Linked DNA regions of Homo sapiens. The protein of the gene in region 1 interacts with the protein of each later gene in a biochemical or structural test. Each region holds a gene or a part of one and is shown in the gene's direction. Other genes may lie near its edges. The genes, in order: WDR76, HELLS and DCAF8.

Region 1 (3,748 bases):
TGAAGGGGAGAGTGGTTACAATTATAGACTAAGAAAAGACTGAATATAATCCAGTGTAAATTCTTTAATGACATAATAGCATAGCAAAAATCACTATTTTTCACTAGTTTTTTTCTCTCTCCCCTTTCCCGCAACTCTCTTCCAGACCCAGCAACCTAAAGAAGATGGAGTTTATGTTTTTCATCCCCATAGTCAGCCAGTTAGCTGTCTTTACTTCTCACCCGCCAATCCGGCCCACATACTGTCACTGAGCTATGATGGCACGTTACGCTGTGGGGATTTTTCCAGGGCTATTTTTGAAGAGGTAAATGTTAATGTGTTTACATGCTGACTTCAGATGATATTCTAGATTCTTCGAAATGCCACATGAATAATTATTATACCAATTGGGAGAAGTGGTATAGCAGAAGGACTTTGAGAACTACGCTGCCTAAGTTCAAATCCCAGATCATCTGTTACTAGTTGTATGACCTTGACAAGTTGCTTAACCTTGTTGTGCCTCACTTTCCTTAGCTGTGAAATGGGATTTAACAGGACTGACCTTACAGGGTTGTCATGAGAATTTAATGAGCTTATGCAGATAAAGTACTTAGAAGAGAGCCTGGCACATAGTATGTGTTTGCGCTTGTTAAATTTCTTTTTTTTTTCTCTCCCAAAGCTTTTAACTAAAATAACTTACTCTTCTGTTTTTAGGCATAAGACTTGTATTTAGCTGGGTGTGGTGGCTCATGCTTGTAATCTCAGCACTTTGGGAAGCCAAGGTGGGAGACTCACTTCAGGCCAGGAGTTCCAGACCAGCCTGGGCAACATGGCGAGACCTTGTCTCTACAGAAAATAAAAAATATTAGCTGAGCTTGGTGGTGTGTGCCTGTAGTCTCAGCTACTCAGGAGGCTGAGGTGGGAGAATCACTTGAGCCCAGGAGTTCAAGATCAGCCTGGGCAACATAGTAAGACCTTGTCTCTAAAAAAAATTAGCTTGGTGTGGTGGCATGTGCCTGTAGTCACAGCTACTCAGGAGGCTGAGGTGTGAGGATTGCTTGAGCCCAGGAGATTGAGGCTGTAGTAAAGCCGTGATCACATACATCATTGCACTTCAGCCTGGGTGACAGAGTGAGACCCTCTCTCAAAATAAGACATCTTCTACTTAATGTTTAAAACAAACATATCATTTGAAATGAACTTTCAGATTTGCTTAACTGTATCAGATTGCCTCAATAAGATAAGTCTTATAAGTTGAACTTTTTTATTTTATTTTTTTTGAGACGGAGTTTTACTCTCGTCACCTAGGCTGGAGTGCAGTGGCGAGATCTCGGCTCACTGCAACTTCTGCCTCCCAGGTTCAAGCAATTCTTCTGCCTCAGCCTCCTGAGTAGCAGGGATTACAGGCACCCATCATCACGCCCGGGTAATTTGTTGTTGTTGTTGTTGTCGTCGTTGTTGTTGTTGTAGAGATGGAGTCTCACTCTGTCGCCCAGGCTGGAGTGCAGTGGTGCGATCTTGGCTCACTGCAAGCTCCGCCTCCCAGGTTCAAGTGATTCTCCTGTCTCAGCCTCCTGAGTAGCTGGGACTACAGGCGCATGCCACCATGCCAAGCTAATTTTTGTATTTTTAGTAGGGACGGGGTTTCACCATGTTGACCAGGCTGGTCTCGAACTCCTGACCTTGTAATCCACCTGCCTCAGCCTCCCAAAGTGCTGGGATTACAGCGTGAGCCACTGTGTGTGGTCAGATTTGCCTCTTCTGGACATTTCATATAAATGAAATCATACAATTTGTGGTCTTTTGTGACTGGTTTCTTTAACAAAATGTATTCAAAGTTCATCCATGTTGTAGCCGTGTATCAGTACTTCATTCCTTTTTATGGCTGCATAATATGCCATTGTATGGGTATTCCACATTTTATTCATCTGTTCATCAGTTGATGAACATTTGTGTTTCTATTCTTTCTTTATATATTTATTTTTGAAACAGAGTCTCGCTCTTGTTGCCCAGGCTGCAGTGCAGCAGTGCAATCTTGGCTCACTGCAACTTCCACCTCCCGGGTTCAAGCAATTCTCCTGCCTCATCCTCCTGAGTAGCTGGGATTACAGGCACGTGCCACCACACCTGGCTAATTTTTGTATTTTTAGTAGAGACAGGGTTTCCCCATGTTGGCCAGGCTGGTCTTGAACTCCTGACCTCAGGTGATCCACCCACCTTGGCCTCCCAAAGTCTTGGGATTACAGGTGTGAGCCACCACGCCTGGCCTTACTTATTTTTATTTTTTGAGATGGGGGTCTCACTCTGTCACTCCAGCTGGAGTGAAGTGGCTTGATCTCGGCTCACCGCAGCCTCTGCCTCCCAGGCTCACGTGATCCTCCCACCTAAGCCTCCTGAGTAGCTGGAACTATAGTCATGTGTCACCATGCTTGGCTAATTTTTGTATTTTTAGTAGAGACGGTGTTTTGCCATGTTGCCCAGGCTGGTCTCAAACTCCTGAGCTCAAGTGATCTGCCCACCTTGGCCTTCCAAAGTGCTGGTATTACAGGCATGAGCCACCGCGCCTGGCTGTAACTTACATTTCAATAAGCTTGACTTTAAAACAATAGGTGGAGAACTCCTATAGCTTAATTAAAAAAGCTAACCCAATTAAAAAATGGGCAAAGGATCTGAATAAACATTTCTTTAAAGAAACACAAATGGCACCGGGTGCGGTGGCTCACCCCTGTAATCCCAGAACTTTGGGAGGCTGAGGCGGGTGGATCACCTGAGGTCAGGAATTTGAGACCAGCCTGGCCAACATGGTGAAACCCCATCTCTACTAAAAATACAAAAATTAGCCAGGCGCGGTGGCAGGCACCTGTAGTCCCAGCTACTGGGGACGCTGAGGCAGGAGAATCGCTTGAACCCGGGAGGTGGAGTTTGCAGTGAGGTGAGATTGCACCACTGCACTCCAGCCTGGGCGACAGAGCGAGACTGTCTCAAAAAAAAAAAACAAAAAAAAACAAAAAAACCCCACAAATGGCAAATAAGCACATGAAAAGATTCTAAGCATCATTATTCATTAGGGAAATGCAAATCACAATGAGATACCCCTTTACACTCACTAGGATAACGATACTTGCCAGTAATAAGTGTTGACAATGATGTGGAAAAATTGAAACCCTCATATTTTGAGAATTGGTATGTGAAATGGTAAAGTTGGTTGGGGAAAGTTTGACAGTTCCTTAAATGTTAAACAGAGTTACCATATGACCTAGCAATATCCCTCCTAGGTATACACCCAAGAGAAATGAAAGCACATGTCCACACAAAAACTTGTACGGGAATGTTCATACAAGCATTATTTGCAATAATACAAAGAATAGGTTGGGCATGGTAGCTCACACCTGTAATCTCAGCACTGACAGAGGCCGAGGAGGGTGGATCACTAGAGCTCAGGAGTTCAAGACCAGCCTGGCCAACATAGTGAAACCGCACCTCTAAAAGAATACAAAAATTAGCTGGGCGTGGTAGCATGCGCCTGTGGTCCCAGCTACTTGGGAGGCCTGAGGCATGAGAATCACTTGAACCTGGAAGGGTGAGGCTCCAGTAAGCCGAGATTGCATCACTGCGCTCCAGTCTGGGTGACAGAGGGAGACTCTCAAAAAAAGTTACATATGGTACAATTTACCACTTTAGGTATATAATTCTCTGAGTTTTGGTGAATTGTGTACACATGTGTAACTATCGTAATCAAGATATAGAGCTGGGCGCAGTGGCTCACGCC
Region 2 (3,748 bases), on another chromosome or scaffold:
CCAAACATCTCCTGAATCTAACTTCCTGGGCTGTTGTTTTAGGCTACCATTACCTTCTTCCTTATCAAGTTGCTTATTTACTTGTCAGGGCTAGCTAGGTTCCTGGAATTTCCCTTGAAGCAACTCAAGATTTCCCTTTATTCCCATGGTTTTTTTTTTTTTTTTTTTTTTTTTTTTTTTTGAGACAAAGTGTAGCTTTATCACCCAGGCTGGAGTGCAGTGTTACAATCTCGGCTCACTGCAGCCTTGACCACCTGGGATCAAGTGATTCTCCCACCTCAGCCTCCCAAGTACTAGGACCACAGGCATGTGCCACCACAGCCGGCTAATTTTGGAAATGTTTGTAGGGGCCAGGCACAATGTGTCACGCCTGCACTCTCAGCACTTCCGGAGGCCGAGTTGGGAGGATCCCTTGAACCTAGGAGTTCGAGACCAGTCTAGATAACATGGCGAAAAACCGTCTCTACCAAAAAACAAAAACACACAAAAACCCCAAACCAACAAAAATTAGCCTGGAATGGGCTAATGTCCGACACTAAAATGTCCGGGCGTGGTGGCACGCACCTGTAGTCTCAGCTACTTGCTAGGCTGAGGTGGGAGGATCAACTGAGCCCAGGAGGTGGAGATTGCAGTGAGCAGAGATCGTGCCATTGCACTCCTGCCTGGACGACAGAGTGAGACCCTATCTTAATAAAATAAAATATAGAGACTAGGTTTCGTTTCTATTTTTTATGAGACGGAGTCTCTCCCTGTTGCCCAGGCTGGAGTGCAATGGCGCGATCTCTGCTCACTGCAACCTCTGCCGCCCAGGTTCAGGCGATTCTCCTGCCTCAGCCTCCCGAGTAGCTGGGACTACAGGCGCCTGCCACCGTGCCCGGCTGTTTTGTATTTTTAGTAGAGACAGGGTTTCACCATCTTGGCCAGGCTGGTCTTGAACTCCTGACCTCGTGATCCACCCGCCTTGGGCTCCGAAAGTGCTGGGATTACAGGCGTGAGTCACCGCACCCGGCTTGTAAACTCTTAAATTTTGTATAGACACAATCATACAAGTTGTGGGAGTCAAAATGAAGGAAACGGGTGGTTACATGGTAGGTATATTTAATGCCATACATCTTAAGAAATTGGAGGTGGGAAAGGGAGCCCTGGAGAGGGAGACAAAGGAAATAGTTGAAAAGGAATGCAAACAAGAAAAGGAGGAATTGAAAGCTGAAGTGAAAACCAGGGACAAGAAAAGCTCCGCTCCTTCCTTCACTGCCCACTCGAATGAATGAATCCTGTTTGGTTTCCTGAATCTTCCTTCTGCTGGCCACTCCGCTTGGTCCATCACTTCTTTCAGCTTGCCCTTATCCTAAACAGCTTTCTTTAACCCAGTCATAATCTTAATTTCCTGTTCCTTCTCTCTCCCGTCCCACCCACAAAAAAGCCCTCCTCTTTGTCATTTTGGGGGATTTTTCACTTAAGATGTGAGCCGCGCGCTGCGGGTGCGGCGAGGCTGGCCCTATAAAAATGTTTCTGTTTCTGACATCCTCGTGCAGATACGCAGACGTCTCTACCTACAGGATCATGGGCTAGCGGGTGCTCAATCACAGCAGCCAGCGTTGGAAGGCGCCTTGCAAAGTATTAACAGCACTATCAAACTTTAATTGCGTAGTTCGGAACCAGATATGTGAGGAAACTGGGTTCTCCACGATCGGCCACCTCGCCCAATCTCACAGGATAGTTACAGGCTGAGTTCGGCAGCGGGACCCAGTTTCCTCCTGAGAGAGGTCCAGGTAAAGGTTTACGGTTGCCACAGGTCAGTCCTGACGAAAACCGCAAGCTGCGCCAAATCTCGCGCAGCGGGGCGGGAGGGCGGGTGGGGAATGTAAGGTATCGCGAGATGACAGGATTTTCCCGCGAAGGAGAAGCGCGCTTTTTTCCCTGGCGGGGGATTTGGCTAGAAGGCTGGGCCGGCAGCGGTTGTGAGGAGTTAGCTCGCGGCATTGCAGGCTCTGAGAGGAGGGGACCCGGTTCCCGGGTGAGTGTCCAGGCATGCCAGCGGAACGGCCCGCGGGCAGCGGCGGTGAGTGAGGAAAACCTTTTGGGCGCGGGTGGCAGCCTGCGGGGCTGAGGTGGGCAAGCATGGAGGCTGCGGCGGAGTTTCGGGGAGGGAGCCGACCCCGGGCAGGGACTGAGGAGGAAAGGAGGGTTGGGAAACTGCAACGGTGAGTGGAGGACACCCCGGAATCGCACGTATTAGCATGCCGGTGAAGATTTCACATAGGCAACTGCATTTTCCCGAGCATCCCGAGTTGTAAACTGTGGTCCAGGCGACTTGTAGACATTGTGAAGACTTACGGTGTCTTCTGAGAGGTGATGCTGGCGTCCCCTCGGTCTTCAGCTTTTGCTCCAGTGCATCTCGGGTGGGAGAAAGGCTGTTTCTTGTTGGAGTTGAGTAGTTGGTAATTTTTTTAAAACTGCAATTTGAAAGCTTTCTCCCCCGTCAGGCTCGGAGGCTCCAGCAATGGTTGAACAACTGGACACTGCTGTGATTACCCCGGCCATGCTAGAAGAGGAAGAACAGCTTGAAGCTGCTGGACTAGAGAGAGAGCGGAAGATGCTGGAAAAGGTAATTTAGGCATCAGGTTCGTCGTCGTGAAAGCCTGTGGTAACCTCGGCTTTAACCCGGAGGTGTGGTTTGTGTTCTTTGCTTTCCTATTTAGTGGGCTTTTTAATAACTGAAAGAAAACAGCTTTATTACTTGTCTTTTTTGTATGTTTACAGATATTGCCTTTGAGAATCCTTTCGCAAGTGCTTTGAATGGTGTGTTTCTATGAGATGTAGTCTTGGTAGTCCCATCACTTTTAAATGAGCATTTCAGATTGCTTGTTTAGCCATGAAAAGTCTTTCAAAGTCCATAGTGAGTTTTTTCGTTTGTCATCCTTATTTCCTTTAAAAATTACCTTAAATGTATGTCTCATGGCAAACAGGAATCGCTAAAACCTGCAGAAGTAATGTACTAGACTGAGGGCAGGAGAAGTTAGCATCAATCAAAGGCTGGGCTGGAATCCAAGTCTAATGATTTCCTTATACTGTAGTGCTGTTTTCCACCTAAGTGATCAACTTGCTGTTTGTTTTTCTTTTGGTTTCATGGCCTGTGTATTGCTACATAAGATTCTTTAGCTAAAAATGTGCCGTACTTTTTCAATGACAAGTTGCTGTAGTTTTCTTGTAGAGAGCATTTTGTAAGTTACTAAAAACAGTTTTTAACCTGAAAAATTCTTGTTTATTCTAAAGCCCCACCCTGCTGCTTGATTCATATGCAAGAAAAAGAATGATCGTTGACTCTTAAGTACTGCCTAGTACGTGGTTTTCTTGTGCTTTATTAATTTATTAAACTCTACCGATATTATGATATAGGTTATTTTTTGTTATTTTCATTTACAAATGAAGAAACTGAGGGAGAAGGGCACATAGTAAGTGTTGAAGTCAAATTTCAACTCAGGCTGCCTGCAGAATTTCTGTCCTTAATAATAGTGAATTAACTCATGATTATAAAACTACTTAAGTTGGAAAATAATGCATTCCAAAAACGAGTAATGAGGCCGTTGGTTCCCTGTTATGTCAACAATAATTTTTTTGTCAGCATTGTTAATACTTCTTGAACATTTATTAGGAGTCATGCATTGTTTTGAATGCTTTATATGTATTTACTCATTGAATCCTCAACTATTCTGTAAAGTAGATGTTCATTATTACTATTACTGCT
Region 3 (3,748 bases), on another chromosome or scaffold:
ACGGTGGGGCATTAAATAGCTACTTTGTGCTGTAGCCCTCTTCTAGGTGTTGAGATTACAAAGATGATAAAAACACAGTCCTTGCCCTCAAGAATTTATATTCTAGTAGTATAGCTGGATCACAAACATAATTTTAGATTAAATGTTATAGGTAAAAAATGTTATTAAAAAAACAGTGCAGAGTAAGGGGATAGAGGAGGATGACATGAGGTTCCATTTTAGTTACAATAGTCAAGAGCTGCCTGTGTTAGGAAGTAGGATTTCAATAGACACCTCAAGTCTAGTAAATATCTAGTAGATGGACATTCCAAGAAAAGGAAAAAAACCCTAGGGCTGGGACATGCTTTGACTGGAGTGACAGTAAGGCTAGTGAGGCTAGAGCAGAGCTAGGCAGTGTGGGAGGAGATGAATCAGATAAATAGGCAGGTGCTAGATCAGATCATGTAGGGTCCTCCTTAGAGGCAATTCATTTTTTGATGGCCTCTAAGGCTATCATACTTTTGACTTTTATTATGTGATGGGAATTGGAGGTTTTGAGCAGGGTGGGGACTGGGGAAATAATACGACATTACTTTTTTTTTGAGACGGAGTCTCATTCCATTGCCCAGCCTGGAGTGCAGTGGTGCGATCTCAGCTCACTGCAACCTCCGCCTCCGGGTTCAAGCAATTCTCCTGCCTCAGCCTCCCAAGTAGCTGGGATTGCAGGCGCGCTCCACCATGCCGGGTAATTTTTTTTTTTTTTTGTATTTTTCGTAGAGACGGGTTTCACCATGTTGGCCTGGTTTCAAACGAGTTTCGAACTCCTGACCTCAAGTGATCCGCCCACATCCGCCTCCCAAAGTGCTAGGATTACAGGCATGAGCCACCGCGCCCGGCCAGACCTTACATTTTTAAAAAGCACTCTGGCTGCCTTATGTTTAACTGTAATGGCAATAATGGAAGTAGACAAACGAGGTAAGTTTCTATTGCGGTAGTCTTAAGTAATATGTAATGACTTGGAATAGGAGAGTAGCGGTAGGGGAGGTGAGAAAGGGTCAGATTTTTGCACCCTGGGCTTCTGGTAAGAAAAAAAAAAAAAATACCCCAGCCTGGCAGCTGGGAGTAATCCTCTGCAGGGTTACTGTAGGTGTCATAACGAAACAGAGTACAAAAGTCACCCCACATCACCCGGCCCACTCTTGGGAACCTTTACCCACACCACCTCTCTTCAGAAAAGAGCTTCTGGAATAGCTACACCTCAAGCTACTGAGCCCCTTCTTTAAAAATACGTAAATGGGGACTCTCAGGGGAAAATGGGCCTCGATAGTATAGAAACCACTTAAGGAAACAAAGCCCTGAAAGGAAACGGGGATTTTCAGAAGAAATCCTTGTGGCAATCATTGCTCGTTCCAGTGTTCAAAAACGGCAAAACTGGCCATCATCCAGGAAGTGGCCTGCCAATCCGCTGGAAATTTAGTTTATTTCTATCACAACTCTGGGTAGCCCCTAACTCGCATTTGTTTAGAGTATCACAAGATAAGCAAGCCCGAAGAAACTACAAAAACAACTTTGCCTCTTCGGTAATGCGCAGGCGCCTCTCGCTCTGTTTTCCGTTGGCCTTAAGCCCCGCCCCTTGTGCGTCCTTCGAGGAGGGTTGCGAGCCGTGAGCTCGCGCGACCACTCTTCCCTCAGTCTTCTCGAGCACATCGTCGCAAACGGGGCCGGAAAGCGTGGCAGCGCAGGCGCAAGCGCAGAGAGCGGAGGCGGTGGTGGTGGCGGCCGCTGGCCAGTGTAAGATGGCGGCGGCGTTGGTGGTGGCAGTGGACGGGGCGGCTGGGCCTGGAACAGTCGGAGCAGCCGCTAGCAGAAGGATGACCCAAGACGGGAAGCGGGCTGCTGAGCCTCGCCGATTCCCGTGCTTGTAACTGCCCCAGCCGGACACCCCCCCTCCCTTGACCTACCCGGTCTGTGTCTCGTTCCGGCTCGGCCTGCGCCCCCCCTCGCTTCCCAGCCGGTTTCCCCTAAGGATGGGCCTGACCCGTATCCCAAGCTCTTAGCGCTCAGGTCTTTTCCTTCCGCCGACCCGAAGTCATCGCTGGGAGTACTGGTTGCCCTTTCCTCAGGTCAGCCCTGGTGTTGCCCCCAAGAGCCAGCCGCACAGTTCACAGGGACGCCTTGCTTCGTTGGGTGACCCATGTGTGCGCTCCTATTTCTCCCCTTAGATTGAGGGACACGGCTCGCCCTGCGTCTCCCCGTCACCTCAGGGCCACCGCGCAATGTGTCCCCCTCCCCCATCCCAAGTTCCCAGGCCCAGCACCTTGTACGGAAGGCGGAGGTCCAAGAATTCCGGAGTCGGTTGTTGTCTTGTGGTCTTGTACCCTTTGTAATATAATTATCTTAGTTTACCTCCTCTAACTCCCAAATCTTTTAGGATATCTTAGAACGGTCCCATTTGGTCCCTGTTAGTTGGAAAGCATCTGGTGGCTTGAATTTCTGACTCATGATTGTTACTGGAGTCTCTGTAAACAAACCGGCACTAGCGCTATCACATTCTCTCCGGGATTTCCCCCCCTGCTCTGTGGCTTCTTGTTGAGAGGTTGTTTGGTTATGGTTTAGCGTTGAAAAGATTCAGGTTATCCTTTTAAATGACTTTACGTTTTAGTGGAGCTGGGAGATTACTTGCCTGGCTTCTAATCTTCATGTTGGTTCATTTTATTTCCATATGTGTGTGGGTTATTTGTTCAGTAATTAGAATTAGATAAAGTATTCTGCTTTTAAGTAGTTTTGAGAAGGCCTAAAAATACTAAAGTGTATTCATAAATATTTTTATTATGTTCAGTAGAAGACACACCTTTGCCATGTAAATTTTAACTTTTCTCAGTCCTTCAGTGAATCTACAGACCTATTTTCTCAGGAGCTCAGCCTGGCCTTACTTCAGTGATAAAAGGAGGAAAGGTGAGTGGGAGTTGGAGGCATTAAAATTCTTGAGTTCAAGACAGACTGCGCTGATGCTCAACTGCTGACCACTAAAGTCATAAAATTCCTACCAGTTTCCCAAAGAGCTTGAGTGTTGTTCTTGGCTTTGTTCCAGCTCTGGTTGAATTACTTTTACAAGTTTAATTGTCTGTGGGCTTCTTGTCTTTCTGTCCTAAACTATTGCTGTGTATCTCCAAATGACTTAAGCCTAGAAGTGAATGTGTGCCCCCTGCCCCATGTCTTCTTTTCTTCTTTATTCATTTTCCTTGTATTTTGTCTTTGTGTCGATCATATTTTTTACGTTGTTAAAAACTGGAACTTAGTTTGCCTGAGTTCTGTTCATCCTGTTGTCAAATCAGGTCTCTTCCCCTCTCACAGCTTCGGGTTGTCATCCCTTGGTATTTAGAGGAGAATATTTAGCTGCTTGTGACTAAAAGCTGGGGAGTGATGAGTGATGCTGCCTTTAGTTGGTGTCTGAGTCCAGTCTATTTCAGAATTCCGACTTTTTAGGATATAGTGGGAAATTTTTTGTAAAAAAAAAAAAAAAATAGTGGCTGCTCTTTCTTTTGTAGCTGGTCTGAAGAATTCTTGGTTAGCAGAAGAAACATCCTGGGCATTCAGCAGCATGGGTTGGTGCCAAAAAGGGAGTCAGAACATACTTATAAATGCAGTTTTCGTGAGGCTTTCAGGTTTCTGGTAGCAGAGACTAGAGGCTCATGGCATGTGACAGAAAAGCTAAGTGACTGGAAGGTAGGCCTGGCCAATTCCTAATATCTTTATGATTTGTAGTAGG

What was found.
Region 2: the proteins of WDR76 (region 1) and HELLS form a complex in vitro, tested with the Homo sapiens proteins (one study listed by BioGRID).
Region 3: the proteins of WDR76 (region 1) and DCAF8 form a complex in vitro, tested with the Homo sapiens proteins (one study listed by BioGRID).

Annotation. Positions count from the first base shown.
Region 1 is NC_000015.10:43,850,942-43,854,689, forward strand, and holds part of WDR76 (WD repeat-containing protein 76), read left to right. Parts: intron 1-145; coding exon 146-304; intron 305-3,748. UniProt on the Homo sapiens protein: Specifically binds 5-hydroxymethylcytosine (5hmC), suggesting that it acts as a specific reader of 5hmC.
Region 2 is NC_000010.11:94,543,891-94,547,638, forward strand, and holds the start of HELLS (lymphoid-specific helicase), read left to right. Parts: upstream 1-1,897; 5' UTR 1,898-2,031; coding exon 2,032-2,062; intron 2,063-2,486; coding exon 2,487-2,608; intron 2,609-3,748. UniProt on the Homo sapiens protein: Plays an essential role in normal development and survival. Involved in regulation of the expansion or survival of lymphoid cells. Required for de novo or maintenance DNA methylation. May control silencing of the imprinted CDKN1C gene through DNA methylation.
Region 3 is NC_000001.11:160,260,471-160,264,218, reverse strand, and holds the start of DCAF8 (DDB1- and CUL4-associated factor 8), read left to right. Parts: upstream 1-1,669; 5' UTR 1,670-1,770; exon of another isoform or gene 1,771-2,102; intron 2,103-2,296; exon of another isoform or gene 2,297-2,470; intron 2,471-2,860; 5' UTR 2,861-2,934; intron 2,935-3,748. UniProt on the Homo sapiens protein: May function as a substrate receptor for CUL4-DDB1 E3 ubiquitin-protein ligase complex.